3 linked regions of the Homo sapiens genome follow. The protein of the gene in region 1 interacts with the protein of each later gene in a biochemical or structural test. Each region holds a gene or a part of one and is shown in the gene's direction. Other genes may lie near its edges.

Region 1 (7,753 bases):
GGTCTGACCATATAGAGGCCGATGCAATAGCTTTGAAACAAAGGCAGAACGTGGAAGGCATGGGCAGAAAAATTTAGGAAACAGAGTCAAGTTGATAGACCTTGGTGACTACTTCTAGGAGCCTGGGAGAAGAGAATTAATTGTGTCCCTGTTTTTTGGTTGAGACACTGGTGGTAGTACCAACCAGGAACACTATTCCTCCTATAACCATAGCCTTCTCCATCTTGGTTGACGGCAATGATATCTTCCAATTGCTCAGGCCTAAAGACTTGGAGACATTTTGATTCCTATCTTTCATACCCCACATTTTATTGGCTCTACCTCCAAAACACATCCAGAATCTGACTACATTACATCCACTACTACCATTCTAGTCCAAACCACCATCATTTCTCTCCTGGGTTACTGCAATAGCTTCCTAATGGATCTTCTTACTTCTATCCCTGTGTCCTCTCCCACAGTGTAGTCTCAACAACTCAACCACAGTGATCCTTCTGACACATTAGTCAAATCATGTCCCTCCTCTGCTTAAAATCAAAGAATGTTTCCTCATTTCACTCAGCCAATGCCAAAGTCCACAGTGGTTTCATTCCATGACTTCCTTTTTTTGAGACAGAACTCTCGCTCTGTCACCTAGGCTGGAGTGCAATGGTGTGATCTCGGCTCACTGCAACCTCTGCCTCCCAGGTTCACATGATTCTCCCACCTCAACCCACCAAGTAGCTGGGATTACAGGCACCTGCCATCATGCATGGTTAATTTTTGTATTTTTGTAGAGACAGGGTTTCACCATGTTGGCCAGGCTGGTCTTGAACTCCTGACCTCAGGTTATCACCTGCCTTGGCCTCCTAAAGTGCTGGGATTACAGGTGTGAGCCACCGTTCCATTACTTCTGACTGCATTTCTTACTACTTTGCTCTTTACTCGTCCTGTCCAGTCACATCTGGCTTCCTTGCTGGTGCTCATTCGGTTCAGTCACACCCCTGCCTTAGGGCTTTTTATTGGAAAATGACAAAGGGTTTCTCTCTGTAGCCCAGGTTGGAGTGCAGTGGTGCAATCACGGCTCACTGCAGTCCCCAATTCCTGGGTTTAAGTGATTCTCCTGCCTCAGATTCCCATGCCACCAGCTTATTTTATTTTATTTTATTTTAAGACAGAGTCTCGCTCTGTTGCTCAGGCTGGAGTGCAGTGGCGCAATCTGGGCTCACTGCAACCTCCGCCTCCCGGCTTCAAACAATTCTCCTGTCTCAGATTCCTGGGTACTTGGGATTACAGGTTGCCCACCACCATGCCCAGCTGATTTTTGTATTTTTAGTAGAGATGGGGTTTCACCATGACGGGCAGGCTGGTCTCAAATTTCTGACCTCAGATGATCTGCCTGCCTCAGCCTCCCAAAGTGCTGGGATTACAGGCATGAGCCACTGTACCCAGCCGCCACCAGCTAATTTTTAAATGTTTTGTAGAGATGGACTCTCCCTATGTTGCCCAGGCAGGTCTCAGACTCCTGGGCTCAAGGGATCCTCCTGCTTCAACCTCCCAAATTGTTTCGGGATTATAGATGTGAGCCACTGTGCCTGGTTTCATGTCAATATCTTTTTTTTTTTTTTTTTGAGACGGAATCTTGCTCTGTCACCCAGGCTAGAGTGCACTGGCGCGATCTCGGCTCACTGCAACCTCCACCTCCTGGGTTCCAGTGATTCTCGTGCCTCAGCCTCCCGAGTAGCTGGGGACTGCAGGCACGCACCACGCCTGGCTAATTTTTTGTATTTTTAGTAGAGACAGGGTTTCGCCATGTTGCTTGGGCTGGGTCTTCAGCTCCTGAGCTGAGGCAGTCTACCAGCCTCGGCCTCCCAAAGTGCTAGAATTACCGGCATGAGCCACCATGCCTTGCTAATTTTTGTATTTTTAGTAGAGACAGAGTTTTGCTATTTAGGGCAAGCTGGTCTCTGACTCCTGACCTCAAGTAATACACCCACCTTGGCCTCCCAAAGTGATGGAATTACAGGCATGAGCCACCACACCTGGCCCCATTTTTGTTTTGTTTTGTTTTTTTTTTTTTGAGACAGAGTTTCAAACGCTCTTGTTGCCCAGGCTGGAGTGCAATGGTGCAATCTCAGCTCACTGAAACCTCCACCTCCCGGGTTTCAAGAGATTCTCCTGCCTCAGCCTCCTGAGTAGCTGGGATTACAGGCATGTGCCACCACGCCCAGCTAATTTTGTATTTTTAGTAGAGATGGGGTTTCTCCAAGTTGGTCGTCAGGCTGGTCTCAAACTCCCGACCTCAGGTGATCCGACCGCCTCGGCCTCCCAAGGCGCTGGGATTACAGGCGTGAACCACTGCGCCTGGCTAATGTTTGTATTGTTGTAGAAACGAGGTTTCACCATTTTGGCCAGGTTGGTCTCGAACTCCTGACCTCAGGTGATCTGCCCGCCTTGGCCTCCCAAAGTGCTGGGATTACAGGCGTGAGCCAGCGCGCCCGGCCGATTACCAGTTGTTTTTAATATAGATAAATACATAGAGATAGATATATCTCTATCTATCTCTATAGATATATATCTCTATAGAGATAGAGAGAGAGAGAGAGATAGATAGAGATAGATAGATAGATATCGGCCGTGGAGGTTGCGGTGAGCCAAGATCGCGCCACTGCACTCCAGCCTGGGCAACAAGAGCGAAACTCCGTCTCAAAAAAAAAAAAGAAAGAAAGAAAGAAAAGAAAGAAAAGAAAAAGAAAAAAAAACTGGTAATCAATTTATTAAAATAGTTGACTTAAGCATCTGCAATGGTGACTTCCACCTCAACTCCTGGCTCAATACTGATGGAAGTAATCTGCTTAACAATCTCAGAAGGACTGTGCAAGTCAATGAGTCACTTGTGGATTCTCATCTGGAAATGATCCCATGTCTTAGAACCTTCACCACAAAGTTTTTCTTGAAGTGATTCTCAAAGTCTTGGCAGGCATTCGAACTGGTCCTTTCACTTTGAGATTATTTTCCTTTGCTCCTCTGATCAAGTCAGCACACACCTTCTCCAGGGATTTTACGATGCGGCTCGTTAGAGTGACTCGAATTCGTGAATTGCCACCTCCGCCTCCCTGGGTGTTTTTCCGGTATCCTTAAAAGCCATGGCTGCTGCGCGGCTTCCTGAGCGACTGGTTCCTCGGCGAGGGCGAACAGCGGTGAGTCAGTAGCAGGAGCGTGCGGATCAGCGATCCGCAACACCTACGACCGCGTCTTCCTCAAAGAGCTATTTATCTATATACATTTTTGAGACGGAGTCTAGCTCTGTCGCCCAGGCTGGAGTGCAGTAGCGCGATCTCGGCTCACTGCCGCCTCTGCCTTCTGGGTTCAAGCGATTCTCCTGCCTCAGCCTCCGGAGTAGCTGGGATTACAGGCGCCCGCCACCACGCCCAGCTAATTTTTGTATTTTTAGTAGAGACGGAGTTTCCCTGTGTTGGCCAGGCTAGTCTCGATCTCCTGACCTCGTGATCCACCCGCCTCGGCCTCCCAAAGTGCTGGGATTACAAGCGTGAGCCACAAGGCCCGGCCACTATTTATATTTTACACTTGATCTTGGCCAAAAGGCCGAGAAGCGATACTATTTATATTTTTATAATACATATCCCCATCTAACATACTACATACTGCAATTACTTATTATATCTTTTGTTTAGTGTCTAATATCCTCCTCCACCTGCACCCCAGCAGAATGTAAGCTCCATAAGGAAAAGAATGTTGATCTATTTTGTTCTCTGATGTAATCCGCTGTACGCCCTGGACAGAACCTGCTGTAAAGTAGGAGCTCAATAAGTATGTGAATTAATGTATCGTGGGAAGGAAAGAACCCAGAGAATAAGGGGCGGCTGAAGCTGTGAAAGGAGCAATTAGGCCTGGCGCGGGGGCTCACGCCTGTAATCCCAGCACTTTGAGGGACCAAGGCGGGCAGATCACTTGAGATCAGAAGTTCGAGACCAGCCTGGCCAATAACATGGCGAAACCCCGTCTCTACTAAAAATACAAAAATTAGCCCAGCGTTGTGGCGGGCGCCTGTGGTCTCAGGTACTCTGAGGCTGAGACAGAGAATTGCTTGAACCCGGAAGACGGAGGTTGCAGTGAGCTGAGATCTCGCCACTATACTCCAGCCTGGGCGACAGAGTGAGACTCGGTCTCAAAAAAAGAAAAAAAGAGTGTGTGTTGGGGGGGACGGGTCAATAAATAGAGCAATACTGTATATGTAAAATACAGAATGGTATGATACCAAGAACACATAGATGGAATGATCTGCAGCACTTCTCAACTGTATTACATTCAACGAAACCGTTTAGAGCTTGTTCTCCCTCCCTCCCCCACTTTCTTTGTTCCTTGGGGAACCCCCACACGGCACAAACCGTGTTTTAATTCCTATTCTCTAGTGTGCAGATAAGTGCCTGGCACTATTAAGTGGTCAAAAGAGGTCGTGAGCAAGTTAACAAATCACTGTTTCCATGTCCCTAACTACTCTTAAGCTCGTAGAGAAGATACTTCCTATCTCTTGCGCTTCTACCTCAACTCCCACTTCGCAGAGAGGGCTAAAAGCGACGTCGTAAACTTATTACGTAATAAGGCAGCGCCCAGAGGCGGAAGAGGCCGGTTTTTGCTCCGGCCACGTGAGGAGGGTGGGCGGGGCGTTAAAGTTCATATCCCAGTGTCCTTTGAATCGACTTCCTTTTTTCTTTTTTCCGGCGTTCAAGATGTCGAAGCGAGGTGAGGTTTTGTTTCTGGAGGATCCTCCACCATCTGTCGTGCAGTGGCTGGCGGATTCGTCAGGAGCGGTGGCCCTAGGCAGCTGGGGCGCTTTGCTCTCCTTCAGGCCGGAGAGAGAGAGCCAGGCCACCGCGAGAGCACTGCCAGGGCCCTCGAAAGTGGCAGTGGGGTGCTGGAGAGTTGAGATGGCAGGATCCCGACGTGAATGTAGTCTGGATACCGCGAGATCGCTCCGCGAATAGGGCTATCGTAATGGGGTTGAAGTTAGACTGGATTAGGCCCTGGTTTGCGCGACCTCTGCGGTTTTATGCCTTGCAGGAGTAATTGCGTTTTGCGAAAGTTAGAGCAAGGGTTGAGTCGTCTAGGTTTCTTAATTTCGATGTCAGAGTGTTAATAGTAAGAAATAGGCTACTTTCCGTGAGAATCGGGTGGCACATGGGGACGGCATAAGTAAAATCCGAGCGAGCTAATCTATAGCGTACAGTCTATCAAAGCATGTGCGGTGAATTACAGCTTGAGTATGAGGGGGAACTCCGAACCATGTCTAGATTGTGATCTCTTTATCCTGTTTCCCTTCCCTTTATATCCACAGGACGTGGTGGGTCCTCTGGTGCGAAATTCCGGATTTCCTTGGGTCTTCCGGTAGGAGCTGTAATCAATTGTGCTGACAACACAGGTGAGGTCTTTGCACGTTGCTATACTCCCCCTTTTAAAAGCACTCAATGGGCCTGTGGCTAATGACCTATTGAGCCGTCAAGAAAGGGGAGAGTGAAAACATCGCTTTTGGGTGAAGTGGCAACATGTGTTGTTTGCTTCAATCGGTGGTGTGACAAGGCGTTCTTGCGGACTAACTGCTTGGGCAGTGAGTGGAGGGAGGGGCTTTGGAAGTGTTTGGGAAATGTTATACTGATGGAACGGCCTGATGGCCCTCAACATTTTTTATTTTTATTTACATTCTTTTGTAGGAGCCAAAAACCTGTATATCATCTCCGTGAAGGGGATCAAGGGACGGCTGAACAGACTTCCCGCTGCTGGTGTGGGTGACATGGTGATGGCCACAGTCAAGAAAGGCAAACCAGAGCTCAGAAAAAAGGGTGAGTAAACACTGAGCCCACCTTAATACTGATGAGTAGTGGGGGGACGCTTTCCTTTATTGGAAAATGGATCAGTTTTCAAGGCCTCAAGTTTGTTTTCCATTGAGAGGCAGTGTGAGATAAGTATCTTAAGTTTTTGCTCATATTGTGTTGGAGGGGGGACCATCATCTTGTCACTTCCATACCTTAGTTGTTTTTTTGTTGTTGTTTTTGTTTTGTTTTGTTTTGTTTTTTGAGATGGAGTCTCTCTCTGTCGCCCAGCCCATACTGGAGTGCAATGGCACGATCTTGGCTCACTGCAACCTCCGCCTCCTGGGCTCTCAAAAAAAAATATATTACAAAACGAAAACAAGCTGCCCGTTGCTTATTTTATTATTTGTTTTTGAGATGGAGTCTCACTTGTTGCCCAGGCTGGAGTGCAGTGGCACATATCTGTTCACTGCAACCTCCACCTCCCGGGCTCAAGAGATTGTCCTGCCTCAGCCTCCCGAGTAGCTGGGATCATAGGTGTGCACCACCACACCCGGCTAATTGCTCATTACTTAATCTCAGGCTCCCCACTCAAAATTTTTCCTGTCAGGTGTATGATTTAAAGGGGGAGGCCTCAAAATACTTGCAGCTTGTGTCCTGTCTGGCTTTAGAACTTCTGGTGTTTGGTGCATTTTAACTTCAGCGCTTGCACTTTTTTCCTGTGCCTGCCTAATCTGTCTCTACCCTGGGATGTCTTGCTCTTCTAAAGAGTTCCTGGCCATCCCTTGATTTACAAATGTGATGTTGATTTGTCAGCCCTGTATTACAGTTACTCCTATTCCTGTATCCACCCCACGATGCTGTCCAGTAGATTTTTAGCCTTTGGGTTAGAAATTGTTTTTTGTTCACCATTAATATCCATTTGAGGGCTGGGTAGCACTGTGATTGTGATTCAGCAATTGCATGGGCTTTTTCCTCTTCTCAGAACACTTCCTGGGTCTGATTGGTGGCCCAGGGAGCTGTCAGAGAAGAGCAGAGCAAATGGCCTTCACTTTGTAGATGAGATGGCAGGAGGGTGGATTGTTGGTCTCAGTCAGTGGTGGGACAGACCAGAGCTCCGAACACTTCAGTTTTAAAACTAGTTGTGAGTTTCCAATTCTGTTAATGTCTTTTTTGGTCCTTGTTTCTGCTAAATGAATACATCCCCTCCCCTTGGAACTTAATATCAATAAATAACAAGCACAGAAATATGCAAAAGGACCAGGTCTACTTGAAGAATTTGTGAGGATTAAATGGTTTATGAGTAGAGGAGGGTCAGTCAGTAAGTATTGGCTACCTCATGTGTGTCCCATTACTAACTTGGTTAGACTTATCTATTTTTTGTGTAGTCTTCCTGTCATAAAAATTCTGTGTAAGGACCCCATGCTAGTATCAGTGAAGATTGTGAATCCAGGTGTGTCTGACTCTACAATAGTTCTTCACAAGCATTATATTTCACTGTGTAGTGATACTTCATTTTGAAAGTTGGGAAAAGCGTCTTTTTCACTTTAGTACAGATGGGTATAAAAGTTACTTAGGACACTAGAAAACAGTTCATTAAAAGTAAAACAAAGCCTGGTGCTTGGGCCCAGGAATTCAAACTGTTTTCCAGTGTAAATCTGAATAGCTTGGTCTCTGCTCATTGCCAGGACTGGGAGGAGTTGGGGGTCCCAGGTCCCATTTCTACATCCCAATTCAGTGATACTGGGATCTTAATAACCTACCTGTAAGGTGAAGTTGGAAAAGGCATAGGCAAGGATAGTTGTCCTGAGAGTTTTACACTTGTGAGAAAATACTGGCAGCTTTGATTTTAAGATGTGAATAGATGATCGTGGTTCATGCCTTTACTCCCTATACTCCCAGCACTTTGGGAGGCCAGGCTTGCCAACATGGCAAAACCCTGTCTC
Region 2 (3,635 bases), on another chromosome or scaffold:
TGAGTTGTGTTGGAGCCAGCATTTGGATGGCCCTACACTTTGCACTGCCTTGTAGATATTTCTGTCACACAACTAGTGGTTAAATAAGCATGTTCTTTAGGCTAGAGCTTTCAGAGATGAAATATTTTAGAGACCAGAGTTAATCTAGATTTCATTTTAAACAATATTCAGATAATCTTTCCTTTTTCTCTCCCCTGCCCTGAAGAGTTTGTATTTATTATAATGTTGTATAACACAGCCCCAATACAATGTGGCTTATATAGGTTTTTCTCTTAGGCTTAGACAGACTCTGGGACTGATATGGGAGCTTCATGGTTCTCAGGCAGACTTTCATTCTACTTTTTGTCTTTGGCAAGTTGGTTTATTATCAAGTGGTTGCTGGGGCTCTATACATCATGTCCAGGTTCAAGGTACAGGATGGGCTGAAGGAGGCTAAAGGCTACTGGCATCCAACCTCTCCTGTAAAAAGAAGAACCTATGGTTTATGCTCACAGTGCTAAAAGTAGGATAGTAAATAAAATAGAGCTGGGTGTGAATGCCAAGGGAGGTTAGGATGACAGCCACATTGGCCACATATGTCGAAATAAGTTGATTTAGAAAAGGATTATTTGATCAAGGATATCCTGGAACATAAAGCAAATAACTACATTTTAGAAATAAGTGAACAGGGCTAAGAAAAGTAATTTTCTTTAAATACGGCCCAAAAGGATTAATTATGATTGGAGTCCTGCTTTGCCCAAGGCTTTTTATTTCATTTTGCATGATAACCTTTCTCAGAACCATGCATGCACAAATTAGGTTGAGACAATGACTTAAAAGTGTAAATGAAATCTCATTAGAAACAAAAACTTTCTGGTTTCTGACATGTTTAAGGGGTGCTCATTGTTACTCAACAATGATTTACTTAGGTAGTTATTGTGATGGGGGCGGTTCTAATGGGATTTCTTTTTCTGGTAGGTTTAGTGGCAACATACAAGCTTGCCATAAACATTTCCTGGGTTTTATCTTCTTGTAAAAGTGTTATTCCACCTTTCTGAGTCTGGCTACCCCACAGAATTCTTTTATCCCTTTTACTCTTAGATTACCTTGTCTGTAATGAAACTTACCCTCTCTGAAGCCTGAGTTGTTCTTCTAAAGTAACACCACTACCACCTTCTTTATTCTCATGTTTTTGGGAGGAATTGTCTACACTCACTGCTATATGTCCTCTATCACCTAAGAAAGGTATTTGCCCATTACTGGATTTTTTTTTCTTACAGAGATCAATAGTGATCAAATTGAACAGCCTATGTCCTCAGGCTGTGTGTTTTGTGGCAATGGAAAAATGACAGCAAAAGAGGGAAATATCCTTGGAATTTAGTTCCTTAAATGGAGGTATTTGCCCAAGTGACTGTCAGTTACATATTTGAGTTGCAAACAACGGGTTGCATTTACCGGGTTTCAGAGTAGAAGCATACTTAGGAAAGGTGGTAGGTGTTCTTGGGCTCTTCAGTGGGGACAGAGGATTGCTTCCACTCTTAGTTACTGGGGTATCTTGTCACCCCAGAGACCCAGAGCCAGAATATCAACACTTTTGAGTGATTGCAGTTTTGTGACAACATAATACTGGTTCTCTCAGCCTCCTTCATTGGATTACCTTCCTCTCTGCTCCATTTCATCCAGTTCCATATTTTCGTTTGTCACTTCAAAGCTAATATTACCATAACAAGTTTACAAATAATCAGACTTCCTGGTTACTTGTTAATACTCAATAAGATAGCCTGCTTGCCCATTTTGAATAATATCAATACATTTCCAGACAAAACATTAGTCATTTCCCCTCAGTTTAAGTGCTGTCAATCAGCTCTCCGTTAGGTACAATGGCGAAAACACTCATCCAGGATCTTGGATATTTAGTGAAGTAGACGTGAAAATTGGATAACTACTCATCAGAGTTTGAAGTGATTAGGAAGGAATTAACTCAGCCAGAGGAAATCTGGGATTTGAATAGGGCTTTGAAGAATGAAAGGTTTACAGAGGATTTGGGAAGGTAAATTGGAGGCTGCGAGGACAAGGAGATGTATGACTGGCACTCGCTCAAGGTTGAGTGGAACGAGTCAAAATAAGTAGGACCCATTCTGTGGAGGGCTTGTCATGCAAGGGTAAGGAATTGGAATGTATACAATTGGAGGCGAATAGAAGTTTTCTGTCATGTTTTAAGAGTAAAACTGAAGGCCATGTGTATGAGTATGGATCAGGTGATTGGGCCACCCAAGAACTTAGATGAGAGAACTGAATTAGGCTGCTGGCAGAACAGAAAGGACGGAGACAGCTGATGGACGGTGCTTGGATCCACAATTGTGTTTGTACTACAGTTAAAAAAAAGCGCTAAGCACTCATTATAAAGCACTTGCTTTAAGCTGTTACACAGATTGGTCACTAGGAGGCATCAGTTCATCAACTACTAAGGCGAAAAGGAAGGCAGCTCTGGACACCCACCTAAGAAGTCTGGATAGTTCTGTGTTAATACTTAACGTTTTCAACTCAAGGACTTTTGGAAACTAGAATCTAGAATATTTCTTCTGAATAGTACTTCAAAGATGAAATAAGGCTAAGAAGTCTAAACTGCACTCTGTGAGACTATTTGTTTATTTATTTAATTATTTATTTTGAGACAGATTCTCGCTCTGTTGCCCAGGCTGGAGTGCAGTGGCGTGATCTTGGCTCACTGTAACCTTCACCTCCCTGGCTCAAGCAATTCTCCTGCCTCAGCCTCCCGAGTAGCTGGGATTACAGGCGCTGTGGGTTTTTTTTTTTTTTGTATTTTTAGTAGAGACGGGGTTTCACCATGTTGGCCAGACTTGTGTCGAGCTCCTGACCTCAGGCAATCCGCCTGCCTCAGCCTCCCAAAGTGTTGGGATTACAGGCGTGAGCCACCGCGCCCAGCCTTGGTTATCTTTTATACCCTGATGAGGGTAACGTGACATGTTCATAATTTACTGGGCTTTAACTTTTTCTTGAAAGATGTTTGACCTTTGGTCTATCCAAATCTTTAATAATGATCATTGTCATGAGTTTCTACTGTATATTGCAAATTGGTTTACAGATCAGAATTTTGTAATCATTATGAATTAAACACTTAATAACTTTCCAAGTTCTGTTACATGTCTTTAAGCCAGTATTGATTAATGGACTTTTAGTCAAGTGTTTGACTATGTAACTGCCAAGTAAGAAACTTACCAACTCAGTTCCATTACTGTGTTTCTCATGCTTCTAAATACTCTTACTAGAAAACAGTAGGATACTAGTTTATATAAACACCTCTCATGATATTAAATTGCATGTTGCTTGGGAAAAGGTTTGTGGGATTTATTTTAGATGTCTGACTATAAAAGCATTTAAGATTCAGAGAGGCCTAGCATGTAGTTATCCATTTAAAAAGTATACCAGAGATATGTTTGTAGGGCAAATTTCAAGTCCTTACATCTCAAGTTTTAAAAAGTAGGATGCATCATGAAAAATCTGTCAAAAGCATTTGAAAAAATTGATATTCTTTTTATGATGGGTATGGACTTCTAATTCAATTCAAGATTTCTACCTATGTTGAGCATCTACTTGGTATCAAGACTTTTTCTAGGTGATTGGGACACATCAGA
Region 3 (7,034 bases), on another chromosome or scaffold:
TGGCTGCTGTCCTTAAATATCAATTGCAGAGAGGTAAGGGTCGGAGGAAAGAATCCTGTGGGGAGACTTACGGTATTCAGGGGAAGGATGACATCAGTAGTAGTGTGACAGCAATAGACATCATGAGAAGGGGGTTGGAAGTGAGCTTTTTTTTTTAGATGAGACAGAGTCTCGCTTTTGTCGCCCAGGCCGGAGCGCAATGGTGCGATCTCGGCTCACTGCAACCTCTGACTCCTGGGTTCAAGCGATTCTCCTGCCTCAGCCTCCTAAGTAGCTGGGATTACAGCCACCCACCAGCACGCCCGACTAATTTTTGCATTTTTAGTAGAGGCGGGGTTTCATCATGTTGGCCAGGGTGGTCTCGCTCCTGACCTCAGGCAGTCTGCCCTCCTCGGCCTCCCAAAGTGCTGGGATTACAGGTGCGAGCCACCGCGCCTGGCCCTGGAAGTGAGCATTTTTACTGTAGTCAGCATAGGTGCTGGGCATGAGGACCAAGAATGAGTTCTGAATTTTGGGGCCTGAGGTGGAGAGAGAGCAGTTGCAGGTGGCAATTAGGAGCTTGGCTTTGGTTGTATCAAGTTTGAATGGTCAGGCTGGCACAGTGGCTGATGCCTGTAATCCCAGCACTTTGGAAAGCTGATGCAGAAGGATCGCTTGAGACCAGGAGTTCCAGACCAGCCTGGGCAATAAAGTGAGACCCTGTCTCTACAAAAAAATTTTAAAAGCCAGATGTGATGGTGCTTACCCATAGTCCCAACTACTTGGGAGGCTGAGGTGAGAGGATCACTTGAGCCCAGGAGGTTGAGGCTGCAGTGAGCCATTATGGCATCACTGCACTCCGTCCTGGGCAACAGAGCGGGACCCTGTCTCAAAAACAAAAAAGTTTGAACGGTCAATGCAGTAAGAGTCTGGAGCCCAGGGGAGAGGTCAGGGCTAGGGGTATTGGAAACCTCGTGGCTGGACTGGGTCTCCTAGTGAACAAACACAGAGGCAAGGAGATCCGAGGACTGAGTCTTGTGGCCTTCTAGCATTTAGAGGGTTACCGAGACCAGGAGCCTGAACACCCTCCCAAGGGCTGGTGGGAATTGCAGCCTCAACTCCCAGGCATCCTGGGGCTCTATCCTCCCACCTCAGCTCCCCCACCCACTCCCACCCCCTGTGGAGAGCTGTCCCAGTTACCATGCTGGTTTTTGCAGGTTGTGATTTTCTTCCCACAGAGGTTTCAAGGAGCTGTAGTCCCAGGCCTGGGAGATCTGAGGAAGCGCACTTCTGGTTCTCTGGGATATGGGGAGCGTGGGGTCAGTGCCTTGATCCTCCTCTCCCCTCGCTTCACATCACCCTTCCCCCACCGCTCTTCTGCAGGTGTCATGGCTGGGTGAAGAGCCTGTGGCTGGGGTGTGGTCAGAGAAGGGCCAGGTGGAGGTGTTTGCGCTGCGGCGGCTTCTGCAGGTGGTGGAGGAGCCCCAGGCCCTGGCAGCCTTCCTCCGGGATGAGCAGGCCCAAATGAAGCCCATCTTCTCCTTCGCTGGACACATGGGCGAGGGCTTTGCCCTTGACTGGTCCCCCCGGGTGACCGGTGAGTCCCTGGGGTGTTCAGGAGTCCCGGGAGGTCGGGGGAGCAGGGTCTGCAACAAGGGGCCGGGCGCTTAGACTCCAAGGAGGGGAGCGAGCTGCGGCCAGGTGGGGCGAGGTCATTTCCTGACTCCCTTCCCCAGGTCGCCTGCTGACCGGTGACTGTCAAAAGAACATCCACCTCTGGACACCTACGGACGGCGGCTCCTGGCACGTGGACCAGCGGCCATTCGTGGGCCACACACGCTCTGTGGAGGACCTGCAGTGGTCACCGACTGAGAACACGGTGAGGGAGGGTGGGGTTCTGGTCGTTTAGTTCTGATGGATTCTAGGCCAGGGACCTAGAATCCTAGGTCTGAGGGAAAAGAGGGCTGGGAGCCTGACGGAGGTTTAGTTTCCAGGCCAAGTCATAGTAAGGGGAACAGTGAAAGAGAGAGTAGCCCACCGCTGGCGCTTGGGCTTCACTGCGGGCTGGGGGGCATTGGGACCACTCAGACTCCGCCTCCCCCAGGTGTTTGCCTCCTGCTCAGCTGACGCCTCCATCCGCATCTGGGACATCCGGGCAGCCCCCAGCAAGGCCTGCATGCTCACCACAGCCACCGCCCATGATGGGGACGTCAATGTCATCAGCTGGAGCCGCCGGGAGCCCTTCCTGCTCAGTGGCGGGGATGATGGGGCCCTCAAGATCTGGGACCTTCGGCAGTTCAAGGTATTTTCCCAGCCGGACACCTGGGGGCTAGAGAAGCTTGCTCCCAGCAGCCCCTGGGATTTGTAGGATTTTTCCTCCTTGAATAGTTTTACACAACCAGAGCTGGAGAGCCCTTAGAACTAGACTCCTGCCTCTTCAGGGTACAGAGGAGGAAACTGAGGCTCAGCAAGAGGAAGGGTGGCGGGTCTCCACTCTTGGGGTCACTCACTCTACCAGGGGAACAGCTGACAAGAGATGGAAGGGGCTGGGGCAGCAGAGACTAGGACTCTCATCTGCCTGTGGGCAGAAGTACAGGTGTCTGTACGGCCAGTGCTGAGAGCTTCAGAGAGTTGTAGATTTCTAGATGCAACTGAGAATCGGGGCCCAGCCTGCTCGTTGTAGGAGAAGACTGAGGCACAGAAAGGACAGGAGCCGCTGTGACATGACAGCCAAGCTAGAGGTTGACATTGTGGAGCTGGGAGGGTCCCTGTGCAGGAGAAGTTGCAGCGTCCGGCATCCCTCTGGACAAAGCCGCAGCTTTGTGTGGCTCTGCCTTCCCGGGCTGCCATGATGTCATCCTTTTTCTCCTCCAGTTTGATCGTTTCTATAGCGTCAGCCCTGGGGAGGAGGCTGGAGACGGATTCCAGCCTCCCAGGCCCACCAGGTCACACAGGGCCCAGCTTGTTGACCATTGGAACTTCAGAGCAGCCTCTCCTAATGAGAGAGACGCCAATTGAGCGGGGCCTTTGCTGTAGTGAAAGTGCTGTCATTCTTAGTCTTTCTTTGGGTCGGCTTCCGGGGATTGTGTTTCTGCCTCCTTTGAGGCCTTTGTAGAATCTGCTGGGAGAGCTCTGGGAGAGCCATGCCCTCCTTTTTTTCTTTTTTTTTTTTTTTTTCTTTTTTTTTGCGATGGAGTTTTGCTCTTGTTTCCCAGGCTGGAGTGCAGTGGCGCAATCTCGGCTCACTGCAACCTCCCGCTCCTGGGTTCAAGCGATTCTCCTGCCTCAGCCTCCTGAGTAACTGGGATTACAGGCATGTGACACCAGCCCGGCTAATTTTGTATTTTTAGTAGAGATGGGGTTTCACCATGTTGTTCAGGCTGGTCTCCAACTCCTGACCTCGGGTGATCCACCCGCCTTGGCCTCCCAAGGTGCTGAGATTACAGTCGTGAGCCACCGCACCCAGCCCATGCCCTCCTTTTACAAGGAAGAAAACAGGCAGGCAGAGGGAAGAGCAGGGGCGGGGGTTTTGCTACCTGAGCTGGGAGGGGCTTCTTTGCAGGTGAATCACAGTTCCCAGCAACCCCTGGGCTGGTCAGCCTTCTTAGCAGCCAGAATTACCCTGTGTCCCTTTCCTGGACTCTGGGCTTGTGAGGGCTTAAGGGGTGGGGCCCTGGCTGAACCCTGAGGCTGGAGAAGGGTTGGGGCTTCTGCCTGGGTCCTCCCCAGAGTCAGGCTGAGGCATTCAGAGCCCGTTCCTCCCATCCTCTCCCTCTAGTCTGGTTCCCCAGTGGCCACCTTCAAGCAGCACGTGGCCCCCGTGACCTCCGTCGAGTGGCACCCCCAGGACAGCGGGGTCTTTGCAGCCTCGGGTGCAGACCACCAGATCACACAGTGGGACCTGGCAGTGGAGCGGGACCCTGAGGCGGGCGACGTGGAGGCCGACCCCGGACTGGCCGACCTCCCGCAGCAGCTGCTGTTCGTGCACCAGGGCGAGACCGAGCTGAAGGAGCTGCACTGGCACCCGCAGTGCCCAGGGCTCCTGGTCAGCACGGCGCTGTCAGGCTTCACCATCTTCCGCACCATCAGCGTCTGAGGCGTCCCACTGGCTCTGATCTTGCTTCCTGCTTGGAAACTGAAGTCGAATTGGGCTCCCCTGGAAGGGGTTCATTCAGGTCTGTTGACTGAGACTGGCCGGCCTGTGGGCTGCCGTGATGGATTCTGTTTGACGTATTGTTCTCTAGAAGGCCTGGCTCTGATCCAGTGACCCCTCTCACCAAAGAACTCGGTTTAACCAGGGCTCTGTAAGACCACTCCCACCCAGAGACTTGTGTGGCCTGGTGTGGCCTGTGTGTCGGATTCCTTCCTGTCAGCTGTGACCCATTTGACCTGTGTCCCCAGAACCCAGTTTTTTGTTTGTTTGTTTGAGACGGAGTCTTGGTCTGTCGCCCAGGCTGGAGTGCAGTAGCACGATCTTGGCTCACTGCAACCTCCGCCTCCTGGGTTAAAGTGATTCTCTCAGCTCAGTCTCCCAGGTAGCTGGGATTACAGGCATGTGCCACCACACCCCGTTAATTTTTGTATTTTTAGTAGAGACGGGGTTTCACCATGTTGGCCAGGCTGGTCTCAAATTCTTGATCTCAAGTGATCTGTCCGCCCCGGCCTCCCAGAGTGCTGGGTTGGGATTACAGGCGTGAGCCACCGCGTCCGGCTCAGGACCCAGTTTTGGCTGCTGGTTCCCAGCAGGGGACTCGGGGGATATACAGTGGCTGCACCAAATTGGAGGTGTGGGTTCCTCCAACACAATTTGCTTCTGCCCGTTGTCTTCCTGCCAGCTGGGTTTGGCCAGGATTTCTCCGTGTGGGGGCTACATGCGACCCTCTCCCCTCCTCCCTGACTTTAGAGGCTGGTGCTGTGTCGGGAGGAAGGTCAGGGCTCCTGAGCAGCAATAAAGGACCAGGAAGAGGCCTGAGGTGTATTTGAGACTCTGGTCCTTTGGCCACAGCCCTATGAGGAAACGGGGTGTGGGGGGAGTTTGGGGGTGGGGAGGAATTTGGCACCAGCTGCCCCCAGGCCGCTAGGCTGGGGGAGGCCACTGGGAGTCCAGTGCAACCCAACCTTCCGCCCACTGGGTGCCGCCGCGTTCTGCCTTCTCTAAGTGTCCTTCCATCTGGAACTCACTCTGGCTTAGTGAAAGGGGCCTCATCCCTGACCCCCACCAGCTTATGAAGGCTTCATCTCAGGGAACTCTGGACCCCCCATTTCTCCCTCCGTCCATCTCCCCTTTATCACGTTTCTTTCTTTCTTCTCTGTGTCCCCCTCTTTCAGAGTCTCCCGTCCCCCACTGCCAGTCTCCCTGCCCCCTAGTCGCTGTCTCGCTCCTCCGCCGCTGTCTCCTGTCCAGCCTGCCTGGGCTGTGGCCCAGCCGCTCTGCCTGGCTGGCCTCCCTGGCTCCCCCTCTGCGGCTCTGAGCTAGCCCCACCCCCGGCCCCCCTCCATCCAGCCTCTGATCCATCTGTGGACTCCGAGGTCGGGTGCCCGTCACACGGCCCCTGGGACCAAGGACAGACTACAGCCCCTCAGCACCCACAGAGGCTTCCCCTCAGCCCTAGCCGAGGAGCCCCCAGCGGAGGGCATGGGGGTGGGCCGCCCCAACAGGTACGTGCCTCCATGCAAGGCACCGCTGAGCCATCCCCTCCTGCTCTGCTGCGTCGCCCCCATCCACCCCTGCCCCAGCATCCCTGTCCTCAGCTTGTCCCCTTCAAGAAGGCCTTGTCTTCCCATCAGTGACAGGCTCAGCGCCAGGAGAATCCACCCCCAGGTTCAGTGCCTCCAACTCTCACCCCATCCCCATTTTATGCATTTTCTCACTGGCTTCCATCCTTTCAGAGAAACCCTCTCAGTCTGTCTGTCTCTGTCTCTGTCTCTCTCCCCCATCTCTGTCTCTCCCATCTCTCTCTGCCTCTCTCTGTCTTCACAATTTCATCTCCCCATGTCGCCATTTCTTAAAACATTTCTTTTCTCCTTTTCGTTTTCCCAATTGCCCTGTCCGCCTCTATCTTCTCTGTCCCCCTCCATCTAGGTCTCTGTCCCCCCCTCTCTCTGGGTCTCTGTCCCCCTCTGTCTCTGAGTCTCTATCCTCTCAAGGTCTCTGTTCCCCTCTCTCTGGGTCTCTGTCCTCTCTCAAGGTCTCTGTCCCTTTCTCTCTGGATCAATGTCCCTTTCCTGCTGCCCTCTCTGGGTCTCTGTCCCCCTCTCTCTCAGGGTCCCTGTCCTGCTTGGTCCCTGTACTTTTTCTTGGGGCACCCTCTCAACACCCCTCCTCCTGCCTATCTCTGCATCTCTTTGTCTTTCTGTAGTCTCTGCTTTCCAACCTGCTGTCCAGCCCCCACCAGTAGGTGGGGAGTGGTGGGGAACACCCCTGGTTTCGGAAGAGTGAGAGTGTTGATTTGGGAGGGTGAGGGTGGGGCCTGGGGGCGGGGCTTCTTGGCCTCAGATTAGACAGTGACTTTGACACGAAGTTGAAGCACCTTAAGCCCTGTATCTCCTTTATATGGAAACATTAAGCTGCTCTCGCAGGTCAGGTGGAGGATCCCTTTCCCTCCCGCCCTGCTTTTGCTAGGGGAGGGGGGTGCCCTGAGCCTGAGTCGCAGCCAGCCTGGGAGCTGGGCCATGTTGGCCGCAGATGGCCCCCTGGTGAAGGTTCCCGTTGGCTTTGGGAAGTAGACAACGGGTCTGCCTCACGGGGCTGAGGTGGGACTGGAGGATTTCGAGGGCAGAACTCTGGGAAGGAAAGAAAGGCTTAGGACCCAACCAGCATTCCCCCTGGCACTGCGGGGGCCTGGCCAGCTCATGGCGTTCCCTGAGCCTGTTCCCCAACTGTGAAAGGGGGTGATGATCTTCACCTCCCGGCATCCTGAGCGGCCAAGGTGAGCAGTGGGGTCTGAGAGTCCAGTGGGGGCTGTGGGCATGTCGGGAGCTCATCACGAGGCCTCGTACATACCAGGTGTGTTTGAAACCAGAGTGCTCTTGAGAAGACTGTGGTTTGTCACTCG

The links. The genes of interacting proteins can lie anywhere in the genome.
Region 2: the proteins of RPL23 (region 1) and NAP1L1 form a complex in vitro, tested with the Homo sapiens proteins (one study listed by BioGRID).
Region 3: the proteins of RPL23 (region 1) and GRWD1 form a complex in vitro, tested with the Homo sapiens proteins (one study listed by BioGRID).

The regions. Positions count from the first base shown.
Region 1 is NC_000017.11:38,850,688-38,858,440, reverse strand, and holds the start of RPL23 (large ribosomal subunit protein uL14), read left to right. Parts: upstream 1-4,719; 5' UTR 4,720-4,730; coding exon 4,731-4,743; intron 4,744-5,335; coding exon 5,336-5,419; intron 5,420-5,445; exon of another isoform or gene 5,446-5,578; intron 5,579-5,708; coding exon 5,709-5,837; intron 5,838-6,782; exon of another isoform or gene 6,783-6,917; intron 6,918-7,753.
Region 2 is NC_000012.12:76,036,083-76,039,717, reverse strand, and holds the end of NAP1L1 (nucleosome assembly protein 1-like 1), read left to right. Parts: 3' UTR 1-3,133; downstream 3,134-3,635. UniProt on the Homo sapiens protein: Histone chaperone that plays a role in the nuclear import of H2A-H2B and nucleosome assembly.
Region 3 is NC_000019.10:48,448,951-48,455,984, forward strand, and holds part of GRWD1 (glutamate-rich WD repeat-containing protein 1), read left to right. Parts: intron 1-1,362; coding exon 1,363-1,576; intron 1,577-1,715; coding exon 1,716-1,858; intron 1,859-2,083; coding exon 2,084-2,281; intron 2,282-3,757; coding exon 3,758-4,075; 3' UTR 4,076-7,034. UniProt on the Homo sapiens protein: Histone binding-protein that regulates chromatin dynamics and minichromosome maintenance (MCM) loading at replication origins, possibly by promoting chromatin openness.